Linked DNA regions of Homo sapiens. The protein of the gene in region 5 interacts with the protein of the main gene of each other region in a pairwise test. Each region holds a gene or a part of one and is shown on either strand. Other genes may lie near its edges. The genes, in order: ZNRF1, MOB4, DZIP3, RNF144A and UBE2V2.

Region 1 (3,519 bases), on a different chromosome or scaffold from region 5:
TATTTTACATATGTGGTATTCACCCCAAGCTTATTGGGCACAGAAATTTGAGTATAGTAGTTACTCCCTATCCAAAGGGGATTCGTTCCAATACCCACAGTGGATGCCTGAAACCGTGGATAGTACCTCACCTGAACCCTATATCTACTATGTCTTTTCCTGTATATACATACCTTTGATAAAGTTTTATTTATAAATTAGGCACAATAAAAGCTCGACAGCAGTAACTAATAATAGAACAATTATAACAATATACTGTGATAAAAGTTATGTGAATGTGTTCTCTCTCTCTCTCTCCCTGTCTCGAAAGTACAGTCATGCATTGCTTAATGACAGGGATACTTTCTGAGAAATGGGTCATTAAGGGATTTTGTCACTGGGCAAACATCATAGGGTGTACATACACGGACCTAGGTGGTATAGCCTGCTACATACCTAGATTATATGTTGCTCCTAGTGCTCCTAGGCTACAAACCTGTGCAACATGTGACTGTATTGAACACTGTTGGCAATTGTAATACAGTTGTAAGTATTTGTGTGTCTAAACATAGAAAAGGTACAGGATATAGTCTTACGGGACCACCATCATGTATGCAGTTGCTTGTTGACCCATGCATGTAGGGTGGTGCGTCATGGTATCTTAATATTTTAGACCTCCATTGACCACGGGTAACTGAAACTATGGAAAGTGAAGCCTTGGACAAGGGGTACTGCTGTATACCCAATTATAAAACTAAGCTTCAATTTTGACAGCTTCAAAATTAGAAAAACTTCATAGGGAAGTGGTGGTAACTTAAATGGGATATTGATTCTGCTCCTACTCATCCTTAGGTAGGGGTGTTTTTAATGACAGTGGATCACTAAGGTTGTGGTTCTAGAATCTTGAAGTTAGCCCAAAACCTAAATCTTAACCTCAGTCAGTTTGTTTGTTTGTTTGTTTGTTTATTGAGACAGAGTCTCACTCTGTCACCCAGGCTGGAGTGCAGTGGCATGATCTGAGCTCACTGCAACGTCCACTTCCCGGGTTCAAGTGATTGGCCTGCCCCAGCCTCCCAAGTAGCTGGGATTACAGGCATGCACCACCACGCCTGACTAGTTTTTGTATTTTTAGTAGAGACAGGGTTTCACCATGTTGGCCAGGCTGGTCTCGAACTCCTGACCTCGGGTGATCCACCTGCCTTGGCCTCCCAGAGTGCTGGCATTACAGGCATGAGCTACCGTGCCTGGCCACCTCAGTCTTTTAGGATGATGGGTGAATATAAATTTCAGTCTGTTTCTTTTCCAAGCTTTCTCATGGCCTAGTCTGAATCAGATGGTTCATAGTAATTACCATGGGTTCAGTCTTGAGTGTGAGAAGGGGATTCTTAGAGACCCAGCAGTTTTCACTTCTGAATCTTAGGTTCTCACTAGAACACAGGTTTATCCTTGAATCCAGCAGTTGGGTTTCTGTCCTTTATGTGCTGTATGGATGAAGGATGAGTTGTGGGTATGAGTGAATAACCTGAAGACCAGCCCTCAAGTGTGAAGTGTGAAGCAAATAACCAAGTTTAATCTTTTTTTTTTTTTTTTTTTAAGACAGGGTCTCGCTTTGTTCAGGCTGGAGTGCAGTGGCACGATCATGGCTCACTGCAGCCTCAGCCTGTAGGGCTCAAGCGATCCTCCTTCCTCAGCCTCCTGAGTAGCTGGGACTACAGGCGGATGCCGCTACGCCTGGCTAATTTTTAATTTTGTGTAGATGGGGTCTCCATTTGTTGCCCAGGCTGGTCTTAAACTCCTGGGCTCAAGCGATCCTCCTGCCTCAGCCTCCTAAAGTGCTGGGATTACAGGTGTCAGCGACGATGCCAGACCCCAAATTTAATCCTAAAGCAGCAGCTGAAATAGTTTCTAGACTGATGAGACTGTTTACCTTGAGACCTCCCTAGAGTCGTTAGTCTTGAACACACAGCTTTCCTCTGTTGGGAGAAAGGAGGAAGGAATAATTCACTGGATCCCTGTGAATTCCAACTTAGGGGAGGCATGATAAGAATTTATAGTGACCTCTTGGATCTGTAACAAGAAAGAGGCAGATAAAAACAAGAGCTCTCCTGATTTCTGTGAATGGTTCAGAAGGGTTCTTAAAGGTGCTCAGTATTCTCTAGGGAGGTAGTTAACGATGCAGATGACTGGACCCCACTCACAGAATTCAGTAGAGCTGGAGACCCAAGAATCTAAGTTTGTAACAAATGAACCTGAAAACAAGAAGACCTTCTACATCTGAAACTAAACTCCACCAAGCATTTAGTTTTTCTCTCCCCAAACAGAGAAATAAACTTTGAATCCTTTTTTGGTGTATTCATTAGCTTTCTTTTTATTTGTTTTTTCTTCTTATTTTTCTTTAGAGAAAGGTTTTTCTTCTGTTGCCCGGGCTGGAGTGCAATAGCAAGATCACGCTCACTGCAGCCTGGAACTCCTGGTCTCAAGCAATTCTCAAGCCTTAGCCTCTGGAGTATCTGGGACTACAGATGCTATGCTACCATGACCAGATAATTTTTTTACTTTTTTTTTCTTTTTTCGGTAGAGAAGGGGTCTCACCATGTTGCCCAGGCTGGTCTTGAACTCCTGGCCTCAAGTGAGCCTTCCACCTCAGCTTCCCAAAATACTGGGATTATAAGTGTGAAGCCACTGTGCCTGGCCTTTATTTTCAGTATTTCTAGTCAGATATTTGCTAAGCAATCTCTACAGCTCGCAGAAGGTAGGTTCAACCAGGAACAACATTGTTGGCTATTTGATGGTTTTCTTTTACATGGGACTAAGCATTATTGCCTACATATAGGGCCAAGCCAATCTGCCTTGGTCTGAGAATTGAAGTTGCTCTGAACAGAAGGTAATGGTGTCAGTGTCGCCTTTCCTTCTGCACTTGTCTTCCTCCTGACTTTTCTTCTTTGGCTCTGGTGCTACAGAAGGGCTTCCTGAGTTACCCTCTTTCCTACATCTTCAGCCAGGCAGCTAGACAAGTCAAGAGCTTAGGATGAATCTAGGCTTTAAAGAGGTTGGAAGACCTGTTTTTCCTTTTCTCTGACTGACCCAAAAGTATAAGACTTTTTTTTCTTTGTGTGTGATGATCTGTTGAACAAAAACGTTCATTTATTCCATTGATAGCCTCTGGTATACCAGGACCTATGGTAGGTGCTGAGAATATATATATTTATTATAGAGCAATTAACTTATTCTTTCCAAGAATCTTTGCTTCCTCACTCCTTAAGAGTCTGAATATTTTAGCTTCTGGGAGATTTTACCTTTTCATCAGCTCCTCTGTTGAATAAACAAATAAATGTAGGTGTTTGTCCATAAGGCTGCTGCAAGGATATACTTCTCTTCACTCATTTTTTTCCAAAGCCCTATTTCTGGGTTGGGGCAGGTGATCTTTTCTTTGTGATTCCAGCTAAGTACCTACCAAGAAATTCCTCGTATGTCTCAGTATGAGGGGTCCTCTGTCCTCTCAGTGAGAATATCAAAAGAAAAACTGATTTTCAGACTCTT
Region 2 (3,519 bases), on a different chromosome or scaffold from region 5:
CACTCCAGCCTGGGCGACAGAGTGAGACTCTATCTCAAAAACAAAAAAAAATTTCTATCCATAGAAGGTGTAGTGGGAACAGGAAAGACAAAAATGAATAGACAGATTGCTAATATATACAAATTACAAATGTGGCAGGAAATTGGATGGAGTTCTGTGAGGATTCGAATAATCAGGGAGTGCTTGAGTGTGTTGGGGGAACGAGAGATTTGGACAGAATTGTGATGTGGAATTTGAGGTGGCCTTTGGAGAAGGTATACAATTTAGCTGTATCTCCTCAAGGAGAGAGAGAATCAAAACTTTGAAACATTAGGATGAGATAAAAAAAATCAGGGAGAGTGGTTTCAATAGTAATTAAAGAGTCATTAAAAAGTGTTTGAGGCTGGGTACGGTGGCTCATGCCTGTAATCCCAGCACTTCGGGAGGCCGAGGCGGGTGGATCAGCTGAGGTCAGGAGTTTGAGACCAGCCTTACTAACATGGCGAAACCCTGTCTCTACAAAAAATACAAAAATTAGCCGGGCGTGATGGCAGGTGCTTGTATTCCCAGCTACTCGGGAGGCTGAGGCAGGAGAATCGCTTGAACCCGGCAGGCGGAGGTTGCAGTGAGCCAAGACTGAGCCATTGCACTCCAGCCTGGGCGACAGGAGCAAAACTCCTCAAAAAAAAAAAAAAAAAAAAAAAAGTATTTGATCCCTTTCCCTGTCATCATGGTGTGTGCGTGTGACTCAGTTCTTTGCCATGCCTTCCCACAAGACTTTAAGACTTTTAGAATCAAGTGATTCCTGGCCAAGAAACAAAAGCAAAATCGTCCCATTCCCCAGTGGATTCAGATGAAAACTGAGTAATAAAATCAGGTACAACTCTAAGAGGAGACATTGGAAAAGAACCAAGCTGGGTCTAGAAGGAATTTTACATGAGATGGCACACATACTTAATATTGCATCAAGGTCACTATCATGTCACCATATCAAGCTGAAAATGTCACCATCATCTGGACAGTTGTACATGCTGTATTGGAACAATGGTTTTTCTTTTGGTTTCTATGCTCTGCAGTAGGCTGGTTCAGTACTAAATATGTGAGACCTTTTGTTTGGAAAAAAAAGTTTTTGAGTAAGCAAGTGATATTCAAGAAAGATTGTCTGAAGTAGGCAAAATTGATTGGCTCAAGAAGGCCTTATAGTTAGTAAGTTTTTGTAACCACCCTTTTAATCTGTTCTAACGTATTTAGACTTCAGAATATCAAAAAGATTGCATAAAGCATTACAGAGATCTGAAATTTAAATTTTTATGTTATTACATTTTAAAAATTGAAAGTGACCCTCCCTTGCCTTTTTTTTTAAACTTAGTTTTTTCTGTTAGTCATTTAAAACAACTTTTATTGGATCTAATGAACATACCATACAAATCCCTATACAGTTAGAGTGATTATATTCACAGGGTTGCACAGCCATCACTACAGTCTAATTTTAAAGCTTTTTTGTTGTTGTTTTGTTTTTGAGATGGAGTCTCACTGTGTTGCCCAGGCTGGAGTGCAGTGGCACGATCTTGGTTCACTGCAACCTCCGCCTCCCGGGTCCAAGCGATTCTCTTGCCTCAGCCTCCAGAGTAGCTGGGACTACAGGTGTGTGCCACCACGCCTGGCTAATTTTTTTGTATTTTTAGTAGAGATTGGGTTTCACTATATTAGCCAGGATGGTCTCGATTTTCTGACCTTGTGATCTGCCCACCTCGGCCTCCCAAAGTGCTGGGATTACAGGCATGAGCCCCGACGCCCGGCCTTTTAGAACATATTTATCCTTCCTGAAAGGAAACCTCACCCTCATTAGCAGCCATCTTCAGTCTCTTCTGCCTTCCTCTCTGCCCTCAAGCCCTACACCAGTACAAATCTATTTCCTGTCTCAATAGATTTTCTTACTCTAGACACTTCATATAAACCAAATCACAATATGTACCATAGTTATATTTACATTGCCTATGGTGAAATCCTGTATCTACAAAATATGGAAAAGTTAGCCCGGCGTGATGGCGTGTGCCTGTAGTCCCAGCTCCTCAGGAGGCTGAGGTGGGAGGATTGCTTGAGCCCAGGAGGTGGATATTGCAGTGATCTGAGATTGTGCCACTGTACTCCAGCCTGGGTGATGCAGTGAGACCCTGTTTCAAAAAAAAAAAAAAAAAAAAGAAATTATGGTTTGCAATTTTGATCCAAGTTCCAGTCCTGACAAATACAATATCTGCATTTATGTAGTAGATTCTATCCAAATGAAGTTGAATTGAAGGATAAATAAGTAAGGGTAACCTACTTTTTTTCTTAGTTACTGATTATGATTCTATACTTGGTTTCCTATTTAGTGTATAACCCAAGTTGAACCACAAGAGCAGTTATGTATTAACAAATTATATGTACTTAACATAAGATTTACCAGGTGATATAATTTAATTAACCATAAGAACTTCTTTGTTTTTAGTATATTCAACAGAACATAAGAGCAGATTGCTCCAATATTGACAAAATTCTTGAACCACCTGAAGGCCAAGATGAAGGTGTGTGGAAGTATGAACATTTAAGGTAGGACCTTACATCAAAATACTAATAGTACCTCTCACAAAACTAGCTTTCATATTAATGATAATTATGAATTGTAAAATTTACTATGTAACTGCAGACTAAGAAGCCAAATTTTAAAGCTTTGGCATTTTCAGTGTCACAAGGTTCTCAGCTTTCTTCACTGGTTGTTTCCAGGTCAAATTATGCTGCAGAGTCACTCATTTTGAAAGGTGGTTTATTTCAGAGTTGATAATTTGGACCTGCCTCTGCACCTCTCTTCTTTTCTTTTCTTTTTTTTTTTTTTTTTTGAGATGGGGTCTCACTCTCTTGCCCACGTTGGAGTGCAGTGGTGTAATCACTGCTTACTGTGCCTCTACCTCTTAGGCTCAAGTGATCCTCCCACTTCAGCTTCCAGAGTAGCTGGGACTACAGGTGTGTGCCAGCATGCCTCACTAATTTTTTAATTTTTTGTAGAGACAGGATCTGATTGTGTTGCCCAGGCTAGTCTCAAACTCCTGGATTCAAGCAATTTTCCTACCTTGTCCTCCCAAAGTATTGAGCCACCCTTTCTACATTTATTCATTTGGGCCTTATTATCCCCGCCTTTTTTTTGAAACAGGGTCTTGATCTGTTGCCTAGGCTGGAATGCAGTGGTGCAATCTTGGCGCATTGCAGCCTCTGTCTCCCATGCTGAAGCAATCCTCCCACCTCAGCCTCCTGAGTAGCTGGGACTACTAGTGCATGCCTCTAAGCCTGGCTAGTTTTTTGTATTTTTTGTAGAGACAAGGTTTCACCATGTTGCCTAGGCTGGTCTCAAACTCCGGGGCTTAAGCAATCCACCCACCTTGGCCTCCCACAGTGCTGGGATTACCACCATGCCAGCCTGGGTTTTATTCTTATTTCATGATTTTCCTTAATTGTATCTCTTAACCGCTAATATAGTATTTCCGTTTCCCCATTTTTGCATAACTG
Region 3 (3,519 bases), on a different chromosome or scaffold from region 5:
CCTTGGAGCTAAACATTAAGTCAAAATTTCATCAAGTATTACCTCCAATATAAAATATTTTCTATGGATAACTTTGGGTTGTTCTGTGAAATTTCTGAGTATCAATATTGCCCACCAACATAGATAACACTTCCTGAGAATCTCCTTTGCATAGTTCTATGTGATTACAGTTGGGAGGGAACCTTAATGATTACCTTATCCAACCCTCTCATTTTATAGATTAGGAAATTGGTTTCCAAGGTTATTCAGCTACGTAGAGAGAAATGTGACTAGAAGCTATTTCTTTTCTGTCTTTGTCAATGCTGTTTTCAATATATCTCATTGCCCTTTGTTTTTCCAATATTCATATGTTTCATTTTCTGACATACATTGTTTCTAATGTGCTTTGTATCTTGAGTTCAAATGAGTGTTCCCCCCGCCATATTGCTGTATGAATTTAGATGATTGCCTAAATAAATATATAAATATGTGGGGGGGGGTGTTGTTTATTATTGTTTATATTTTCTATTTTAGATGCAGCAGTTCTTAGGAAGACCTCTTGTGAAAGAATCTTTCTTTAGACCCATACTTACTGTTCCTCAAATGCCTGCAGTTTGCCCGGGAGTCGTCTCTGCAACTGGCCAACCTAGAGCCCCCCTGGTAAAAGCTTTCTTGGTGGAATAGATGTTAATTAGTTTTTTTATTACTCTAGTGGGCTTCCTGAATGAGTATCTTCATTTTGTTCATTCATTTGATATGATAATGATGGGGGTGGTGGTGATAATTGAATGAATACTTCCTGTGAAGCACTGTGCTCAGGGTGTTACATATATTATTTAACTGATACTAGCTTCGTTTTGGGATACAAAGATAAATATGTTTTTATACTAGAGAATCCTTAAAATTATAGTATTGCTTCTGAAATAGGCAACAATGCAGGGTAAATTGACATTTTTAATAGATTTTTTTGGCATGGTTGTTGGGAAGATTGAAAAGCAAAGAAGCCAAGTCACAACAAACTATATTATGGCACAAAGCTAAAGAAAAATTTTATTTCCACACACGTACACACACATAGTAGGACAGTATTTCAAGTGTATCTATAAACAGACTATAAATAGCATCACCTTGAAACATAAACTGTAAAGTTATAAATCTTCCCAGCTACAAATAGCCAGATAAACTTTATCCAAACCTGAAGAAGGAACATATAAATTTGAAATTACCAGAATTATCAGTTGTAATCTTGGTGAAGGTTTTTTATTAAAGGAAAATCTTCCAAAAGAATGATGTTAGATGTAATTAATGAAAATTCTCTAATCTTGATTTTCCTATAAGTATAATTAGGTGCAATTAATTGTTTCTTTTCTTTTCTGCTCCCCATATATTGCTAACAGTTTCCTTTTGAAATACATGGTCAGGTGGACTCTGCTTATTATTGTCGAGGCTACCTGTCTATAAACAAATCTGTATATAGTCCTTAATATGTTAAATAAGTAACACATCTTTTTACTACCATGATATTACAGTGTTAACTCTTGCAATTTGCTTGCCCACCATTCTATAAGAAACTATGATAAAATTTTATTAAAAACATTAAAATACCTTAATCTCCTAATAAGATTACTTTCTGATTCCTGGGGTAAAGCTTGACATAGAAGCAAATTCAGATTTCTGGGAAATATTCTGCTTCCCCTCACTTCTTAGGCTCTGTACAAATTATTACAGTGACTGTTAGTAGTTGCTAGTTTTTCATGAATAATAACCTAATATTTGAAAATAACCCATTAGAGCCTTACATAAAAGGTGCAAGTGGTCATAATTATCTTAGTAATCAGATGAGCACTCCAAAAATACTCTGTTATTATATTATTTAATTAGAATCTTAAGAAGGAACTACCATAAAATATGGAGAAAAGTGATGGTTTCATGGCTGCATGTCACTACAACTTCTGCACCACTTTTGTCTACAACATTGATGAGACATTGGGCAGAGCAGTTCTAGTAGTATTCCCATCTTTATTTGGTTGTTTGAAAAATGTAACTTTACTTTCTCGTTATAAAGGTATATATGCTAATCACAAAATGCGAATAATATAGAAATGTAAGCACATTAGAAAACAAAGTTACTGTGCAATTGATCCCTAAGAAATAATCACTTCTTACGCATTGTAATTTACAGACCTTTCTCCGTGTATACATATGCATTTAAAATTTTTTAATGTAAAAGGAAGTCGTATCATAAATACTGTGCCACAGACTTTTTAAAAAATCATATTTCATGCATATCTCTTATGCCCAGACATACAGTTCTATTTTTAAAAACTTGATTAGATGTGCCATAATTTATTCATTTCTCTATAGATGTAAGGTTTTTTCAGTTTTCACTGTTAAAAGAGAAACAGCAGTAAACAGCCTTCATGTTTTGCTGTACATGTATGTAATTACTGAAGCAAGCATGTCCTATTTTAAAAATAAGTTTAAATATTTATAAACAGTTAGAAATATTGTTTGTATTAGTTAAGAGAAAAACCCTAAAAGGGATTGTGTATGCCAGTATTCTTCTTCATTCTACCCTTTTCTTTGTCCTATTTTTAAAATAAGTTTAAAATAGTTACAAACAATTAGAAATATTAAGAGAAAAACTGTAAAAATTGAATGTGTATGCCAGTACGCTTCTTCATTGTACCCATTTTCTGAGGTATAGGAATGTCACTTCTTAATAATTAAACCTGCTGGGCTATAGCTCTCTGCCTCTTACAGATGACTGGCATAGCCTGGGCTCTGCCAGCGCCTGTGGGAGACGCTGTGCCTCCCAGTGCAGGTCTGCGGAGTGATCCCTCCATCATGAATTGGGAGAGAATTACAGACAGGCTGAAAACTGCCTTTCCACAGCAAACCAGGTACCTTAGTTTTTATTTATTGGTGGGTACAGATCATATTCTCCAGTTTTCATAGCCATAATTGTGGCAATGAAACATTTCAGAGAAACATAACAAACACAAAAAAAGTACAGATGTTTCCTTACCTTGACCTTGGTAAGGAAAAAGAAATTTACCAAGAAGAGACAGTGTTCAATGGTGAACCTCTTCATTAAAAAGTTACTTGTCTTAAATCATGAGAGAATAACTTTAAATTTAGGTATGCTCATTTACTAAAAGTACAACTAGATGTAAACTTACCCAATTTTAATGGCACTAACTGCCATTATTATCTTAACCTATCTCCAAAGTGAATTTTAAGTTGATTGTATGCTATATAAGCCCAAACATCTTTAGGATTTAATTTCCTAATTTCCTTAATTTTGAGGGTCCTTATAGTTTCTTTGTTGGAGAACACACTAAAAATGCAAGAAATCATAACTTTACTGTGCTTTTCACAGTCTACCTTTAGTAGAAAGATATTTAATTATATTCCTACACAAATGAAGTTTCTTTTATCTCAACTCATATCTAAGGAAATAATTCTACTTTTCACAAGTATTTTTATTTCAATACAAACATTTAATATATATACTGGCACACTTCATTATTAAATTAT
Region 4 (3,519 bases), on a different chromosome or scaffold from region 5:
GACAACTCTCTGCCTGCCCTCTGTGAGTGCTGTGGGGTGAGCCCAGCTTTGTCCCTGATGAGATAGGAGGCCCATGTCTGCCCAGCCCTGCGGGAGGGTGCAAGTGCTGTGTGCACTAAACAACACGCTGCGCGGGAAGAGAAATCCTCACCCGCTCTTTGCTCTCCTCCCGATATAGCTCTGAGGCTAGATCCAGAAGGGCAGCGCTGCCTGCTAGGGACCCTTCCGTCTCACTGCTGTCCCCACCTCTCCTGTGCAGTAGGAGCTTCTGACATCAGCAAGGAGCAGACATCCCAAAGCTGGGTCTCGGTCTCTTCATGCACGTGATTTGTCATGCACCACCTCCTGTCCACCCTCCTGGCTCAACAGTGGGGGATGCTATTAAGCATCCCCATCACAAAAGGCCCCCCAGGATAGCACACAGGGGAGACCTGGCTAAGGTTTCCATGGGAACGATTTAAATCTTATTAGTTTTGTCCTCATATAGCTGTGACACGGCACTGCCTGTCCTCACATGGAGAGATTCCCTATCGAAAAGGTCAGGGACAAACGGCCGCTCTGACTGCAGACTGCAAATGTCCTTCCTGTGCTGCCGGGGCATGTCACACCCTGTGAACATGGCCCCAGGCTGAGGCGTAGATGTCTATTAACATTCTGCATTATCCTCCCCAATCTACACACGTGTGTGTATGAGACATATTTTCAAACAAAGCAAATGATATGCTTTTTGGCACACTAGAGGAAACTAATGTTAACTCTTCTCTCCCAGAGGCGTATTCATGGCAGATTAATGAAGCAGGTCTCTTAAGAACTCCCTGCTTAAAAATGCATAAAACTTTTTAAAAAGGTGGCTTTCCTTTTAAAACAGTTTCCTTTCAGAAGTACATGACAGAGAACGATGCACCCAGCATCCCCTCTCATCCCTGCACTTACTACCCTGCCCGGCGGGCTGGTGCCTGGTGCAGGGCTGGGATGGTGGGTTTGATCCTGCTGTGAGATGGCAACATTTTCAGGAGTCGGCTCTAGTCAGGCCTGATTACAGGTGGATAACCCATCGTATTATTTAATCTCTCTGAGCTTTACTTTAAAAAAAAAAAACAAAGAACAAAAAAAAAAACAATACACGGTTGACATCTGACATCAGCATTCACTTGGCCAGGCACTGGGCTGGCATGGGACGAAGGCATGAGGACCCACAGTCCTGTCTCTGGGAGGGCTGAGCCTCCAGATAGAGGCAGGTGCACAGCAACGCCCTTAGCACAGCACCGCTGGGTCTCAGAGGGCCACGGGCGTCGAGTGTAGCATGAGAGAGGGGTCCACGCAGCAAGAGGCATCCACACCCCCTCGCTCAAGAATCTGTCCCTACCCAGACTCTGGAGTGAGCCAGTTGTGAGGAGGTGTTCAGAATGAAAACTCAGCTTCCTGGCCCCCTTCCCTGGCTTCCTGCTTGCCCCAGAGCTCCAGAAGGGGAAGACATTGACGCTAAAACCAAGGCTGTTATATCAGAGGAGACATTCTAAGACTAAGTGCAGACAGTGTGCGCAACATGACCTAACCATAGAACTTTCTGGTAACTCAATGTTTTCAGAAAATCATTGAACTGTCTCAGTTTTCTTCCAGGGCGTCCTCTACTTGACTAGATTTTAGAGCCATAGAGACAGTCAAAATTTGCTTTCTGATCTTGTCTCCAAACTCTTTCAAGGTGCTGGCTATAATCCATAACTATATTTTAGCTCTGACATTCTAACGTTTTATCTAGACAGGTCTTTTATAGTATGAAGTCTGAATACTTAAAAAAAAAAAAACTTTGAACATAATGTTAGTAAAATGCTTTAAAGGGAGAGGCTTGAGAGATTTTTTTTTTTTAACAGAAGCCAAGTTGGCTTCATGTTTATGCAAAAGGAAAAAAGATTTTCTGACTAAGCCAAAGTACTAAAGAAATAACAGTTAAAATTATTAGGTTGAAAAATGTACCCAGCTGCATTTTTAAATTAAATTCAATGTCATAGAAAGTTCATATTCTTGTAACGCAAACAACAGCCAGTTTCTGTCAAGATTCTCTCTGGAAAATATTCTCAGAAGAGCCTGAAAGTCTCAGAAGTCTAAATTAATCAATTTTATTGCCCTACGTACTGACTTTTGTACCAAATGGCATTATATTAAAGCTATAAACTGCCCCAAAGCAAATGATATACGACACTTTAATAAACACACTCTTGAAAACAAATGTCAATGCCATGAAAAATGCTGTTTGAGTTTTTTTTTAAGTGGGCTACATATTTTTTTCTTTTTCTTTCTTTTTTTTTTTTTTTTTTAGAGACGGGGTCTCAATATGTTGCCCAGGCTGGACTTGAACTCCTGAGTAGTTGAGACTATAGGTACATGCCACTGGGCCCAGCTATCTCTAGCATTTCTTTTAGAAAGCAAAAATATACAAACAACAGGTCTCTGCATGCAGCTAAACTGGGAGTCTCTGGATATTGTCCTCTGGTCTCCTCTGCCGTCCACTCCCCATCCGGCCATGTTTTCATGTAAGCCCACCCTCCAGGGCTGTGTCTCAGTGGTGAGACCCTGCTCAGGTCAAGAACCCGAGAATCAGTGCAGGGAGAGGGAGAGCAGATGCCAGCAATCCAAACTCAGAATCCGCCTGCAAGGTCCACACAATGATGTTCTGCATATGGAGTGTCGCCTGCACACATCTGTCACTCTGCTCTTTACCAGACAAGCCTGGGGCCCAGAATAGATATGAAAACAAAGCCAAAGAGAGTCCACAGACTCTTTACAGTTTCATTGTATGACCCCGGAGTATTTCAGAGAGCAGAGCTAAAGACCTCTCCTGGACATTCCACATGGCTTAATGCTTTGCAATATTATCCTGAGAATCATGTTCTGCTCTGTGTGCACCTGCCACACTGCTCTCCCAGAGGACCCCTGGGTCTGCATCAGGCCTGCTCCAGCCAGAAGGACTATTCAGGGCCCAGTGGAGGGCTCACGATGAAGGGTCATGGGATGTGGTCCCAAAGCACCCACTATATTTAGAAATCAGGGCAAGTCAGTTAGCCTCTCTGGGGATCCGTTTATTAGATAATGACAAATTAGCTTTGCAGAGTTGTTGTGACACTTACTGGGATAAGGGACTTGATTATTCATTCACCACCTACTATCTAGGTCTGTGTCCAGTGGTGAGTAAGCGCAGACAGGACACCTACCATCGGACTGTTGTTAGGACGGGGGTTACTGTAATTTCTGCTATGCCTACCCTCACGACTTCCCTCCATGACTCTGCATCTTTTAACTTCTGGGCCAGTCCAAGAGTTTAGCCCTCAAACTCAGCCTTAAGCTGGCTGAAATATAATACCTCAAGAGAGCCATCAACTTTAAGCCTCCCCCAGGAGCCTCAATCCTTATAAACAAATTGTGTTCCATAAATTCTTCCTGCTACCAAATAGATCACTAGACAAGGTCTTCAAACTGTGAGCTGTTCAGAGAATCCAGAATGTCAGTTTAATTTCAGAAGTT
Region 5 (3,519 bases):
AGTCCTGGCTACTGGGGAGACTGAAGCAGTAGAATGGCATGAACCCGGGAGGCGGAGCTTGCAGTGAGCTGAGATTGTGCCACTGCACTCCAGCCCGAGTGACAGAGCGAGACTCCATCTCCAAAAAAAAAAAAAAAAAAAAATAAGGCTTGTCAAGAGTAGCTTGAGGCTGGGTGCAGTGGCTTCCACCTGTAGTCCCAGCACTTTGGGAGGTCGAGGTGGGTGGATTACTAGAGCCTAGGAGTTCAAGACCAGCCTGGGCAATACAAGAAAATCCCATCTCTACAAAAAATGCAAAAATTAGCTGGGTGTGGTGATGTGCACCTGCAGTCCCAGCTACTTGGGAGGCTGAGGTAGAGTATGGGTTGAGCCTGGGAGGTTGAGGCTGCAGTGAGCTGTGATCGTGTCACTGCACTCCTGCCTGGGCGACAGAGCAAGACACTGTGTCAAAAAAAAAATTAATTTGAACAATGCTTGCTAATGTTTTGAAGTACATTATCTGTACATTGTGGAATGGTTAAATCTAGCTAATTACCAAATACATTATCTCACATAGTTATCATTTTTGTGGTGAGAATACTTAATAGCTACTGAGTATTTTTCAAGAATACAGTATGTTGTTAACTAATCACCATGCTATACAGTAGTGCTCTTAAACTTGTTCCTCCTGACTGTAATTACGTATCCTTTGTCTAACATCTTCCCAATCCCCACCCCCGTAACCCCAACCATCCTAACCTCTGGTAACCACCATCTCCTGTCTACTTCTGTGAGATCAATTTTGACTCCATATATGAGTGAGATAATATGTATTTGTCTTTCTGTGCCTGTGTTATTTCAGTTAACATAATGTTCTCCAGGTTCATCCATGTTGTTGGAAATGAGAGAATTTCCTTCTTTTTTATGATTGGAACAGTGTCCCACTGTATACGTATACCACATGTTCTTTATCCATTTGTCTGTGTGGTTTTTTTTTTTTTTTTTTTTGAGACGGAGTCTCACTCTGTCACCCAGGCTGGAGTGCAGTGGCGCGTTCTCAGCTCACTGCAACCTCCACCTCCTGGGTTCAAGCAATTCTCCTGCCTCAGGCTCCCTAGTAGCTGGGATTACTGGCACCCGCCGCCAAGCCCGGCTAATTTTTGTATTTTAGTAGAGATGGGGTTTCACCATATTGGCCAGGTTGGTCTCAAACTCCTGACCTCAAGCAATCCATCTGCCTCGGCCTCCCAAAGTATGGGGATTACAGGCGTGAGCCACCGCGCTCAGCCTATCCATTTGTTGGTTGATGGATACTTAGGTTGATTCTATATCTTGCATATTTTGAGTAGTGCTGCAATAAAATGGGAGTGCAGGCCTCTCTTTGACATACTGATTTTATTTTCTTTGGCTATATATGCAGTAGCAGGATTACTGGATCATACGGTAGCTCTGTTTTTAGGTTTTTGAGGAACTCCATACTCTTCTTTCTCCATATGGTTGTACTAATTCACATTCCCACCAACAGCATGCTTAGATTATCCTTTATCACCACATACTCACCAACACTTGTTATCTGTCATCTTTTTTTTTTTGAGACGGAGTTTGGCTCTTGTTGCCCAGGCTGGAGTGCAATGGCATGATCTCGGCTCATTGCAACCTCCACCTCCTGGGTTCAAGCAATTCTCCTGCCTCAGCCTCCCGAGTAGCTGGGATTACAGCCACGCACCACCATGCCTGGCTAATTTTGTATTTTTATTAGAGACGGGGTTTCTCCATGTTGGTGAGGCTGCTCTCGAACTCCCAACCTCAGGTGATCTTCCCACCTTGGCCTCCCAAGGTACTGGGATTACAGGCGTGAGCCGCCGTGCCCAGCCTTTTTTTTTTTTTTTTTTTAATTGAGACAGAGTCTCGCTCTGTCGCCTAGGCTGGAGTGCAGTGGCGAGATGTCAGTTGACTGCAACCTCCACCTCCAGGTTCAAGCGATTCTCCTGTCTTAGCCTCCCGAGTAGCTGGGATTACAGGCACCCGCCACCATGCCTGGCTAATTTTCATATTGTTAGTAGAGACATGATTTCACCATGTTGGCCAGGCTAGGCTGGTCTCAAACGCCCGACCTCAGGTGATCCACCTGCCTTGGCCTCCCAAAGTGCTGGGATTACAGGCGTGAGCCACTGCGCTTGGCCTCATCTTTCATCCTTTTGATTATAGCCATTTTAATGGGAGTGAGGTGATACCTCATGTGGGTTTTTTTTTGCATTTCTTTGATGATTAGTGATGTTGAGAATTTTTTTCATATACCTCTTGGCCATTTGTATGTCTTTTGAGAAATGTCTATTCAGATCTTTTACCCATTTTTACATGAGGTTATTTTCTTGGTATTGAATGGAGTTCCTTATATATTTTGGTTATTAACCCCTTATCAGATATATAGTTTACGAGTATAGTGAACCATTCTGTATGTTCTCTCTCTCTTTTTTTTTTTTTTGGTGGAGTTTCGCTCTTGTTGCCCAGGCTGGAGTGCAATGGCACGATCTCAGCTCACTGCAAGCTCTGCCTCCTGGGTTCAAGGGATTCTCCTGCTTCAGCCTCCTAAGTAGCTGGGATTACAGGCATGTGCCACCATGCACTGCTAATTTTGTATTTTTAGTAGAGACGGGATTTCTCCATGTTGGTCAGGCTGGTAATAAACTCCCGACCTCAGGTGGTCTGCCTGCCTCAGCCTCCCAAAGTGCTAGGATTACAGGCGAGAGCCACCGCGCCTGCCAGTTCTCTCTTTATTGTTTCCTTTGCAGTGCAGGAGATTTTTAGTTTTATGTGATCCAAATTGTCTGTTTTTGCTTTTGTTGAGTGTGCTTTTGAGGTCATATCCTCCAAAAATCATTGCCCAGACCAATGCCATTGACTTTTCTTCCTGTTTTCTAGTAGTTTCATAGATTGCCTTTTTTTTTTTTTTTTTCCTGAGACAGTCTCAACCTGTCACCCAGGCTGGAGTGCAGTGGCATAGTCACGGCTCGCTGCAGCCTCAACTTCCCAGGCTCTCACCTCAGCCTCCCGAGTAGCTGGGACTACAGGTGCACGCCACCATACCTGGCTAATGTTTTGTATTTTTAGTAGAGATGGGGTTTCGCCATGTTGGCCAGGCTGGTCTCGAACTCCTGACCTCAGGTGATCCACACGCCTCGGCCTCCCAAAGTGCTGGGATTACAGGTGTGAGCCACCATGCCCAGCTGCACAATGCCCAATTTTGCCACTTCTGTTCAACATAATACTGGAAGTCCTAGAAAGAGCAATAAGACAAGAGAAAGAAATACAAGGCATCTTAATTGGAAAAGAAGTTAAACTGTTCCTGTTTGCAGAAGACATATGATGTCAGTGTTTATTGTTATAAAAACTTCTGTCTTAAAACTGCTTTTGCTGTATTCCATAGGCTTTGTATGCTGTGTGTTTCAGTTTTCATTTTTTTCAATAAACTTCCTAATTTGTTTTTTAATATCTTCATTGACCTATTGGTTGTTCAAGAGCATGTGTTTAACTTCCATG

Evidence for each region.
Region 1: the proteins of UBE2V2 (region 5) and ZNRF1 interact in a two-hybrid assay, tested with the Homo sapiens proteins (one large-scale study listed by BioGRID and IntAct).
Region 2: the proteins of UBE2V2 (region 5) and MOB4 interact in a two-hybrid assay, tested with the Homo sapiens proteins (one large-scale study listed by BioGRID and IntAct).
Region 3: the proteins of UBE2V2 (region 5) and DZIP3 interact in a two-hybrid assay, tested with the Homo sapiens proteins (one large-scale study listed by BioGRID and IntAct).
Region 4: the proteins of UBE2V2 (region 5) and RNF144A interact in a two-hybrid assay, tested with the Homo sapiens proteins (one large-scale study listed by BioGRID and IntAct).

The regions. Positions count from the first base shown.
Region 1 is NC_000016.10:75,005,507-75,009,025, forward strand, and holds part of ZNRF1 (E3 ubiquitin-protein ligase ZNRF1), read left to right. Parts: exon of another isoform or gene 1-1,572; intron 1,573-3,519. UniProt on the Homo sapiens protein: E3 ubiquitin-protein ligase that plays a role in different processes including cell differentiation, receptor recycling or regulation of inflammation. Mediates the ubiquitination of AKT1 and GLUL, thereby playing a role in neuron cells differentiation.
Region 2 is NC_000002.12:197,533,063-197,536,581, forward strand, and holds part of MOB4 (MOB-like protein phocein), read left to right. Parts: intron 1-2,467; coding exon 2,468-2,568; intron 2,569-3,519. Other genes in the region: HSPE1-MOB4 protein, read left to right, coding at 2,468-2,568.
Region 3 is NC_000003.12:108,683,703-108,687,221, forward strand, and holds part of DZIP3 (E3 ubiquitin-protein ligase DZIP3), read left to right. Parts: intron 1-513; coding exon 514-639; intron 640-2,725; coding exon of another isoform or gene 2,726-2,742; coding exon 2,743-2,882; intron 2,883-3,519. UniProt on the Homo sapiens protein: E3 Ubiquitin ligase proteins mediate ubiquitination and subsequent proteasomal degradation of target proteins.
Region 4 is NC_000002.12:7,014,901-7,018,419, reverse strand, and holds part of RNF144A (E3 ubiquitin-protein ligase RNF144A), read right to left. Parts: intron 1-3,519. UniProt on the Homo sapiens protein: E3 ubiquitin-protein ligase which accepts ubiquitin from E2 ubiquitin-conjugating enzymes UBE2L3 and UBE2L6 in the form of a thioester and then directly transfers the ubiquitin to targeted substrates.
Region 5 is NC_000008.11:48,014,929-48,018,447, forward strand, and holds part of UBE2V2 (ubiquitin-conjugating enzyme E2 variant 2), read left to right. Parts: intron 1-3,519. UniProt on the Homo sapiens protein: Has no ubiquitin ligase activity on its own. The UBE2V2/UBE2N heterodimer catalyzes the synthesis of non-canonical poly-ubiquitin chains that are linked through 'Lys-63'. This type of poly-ubiquitination does not lead to protein degradation by the proteasome.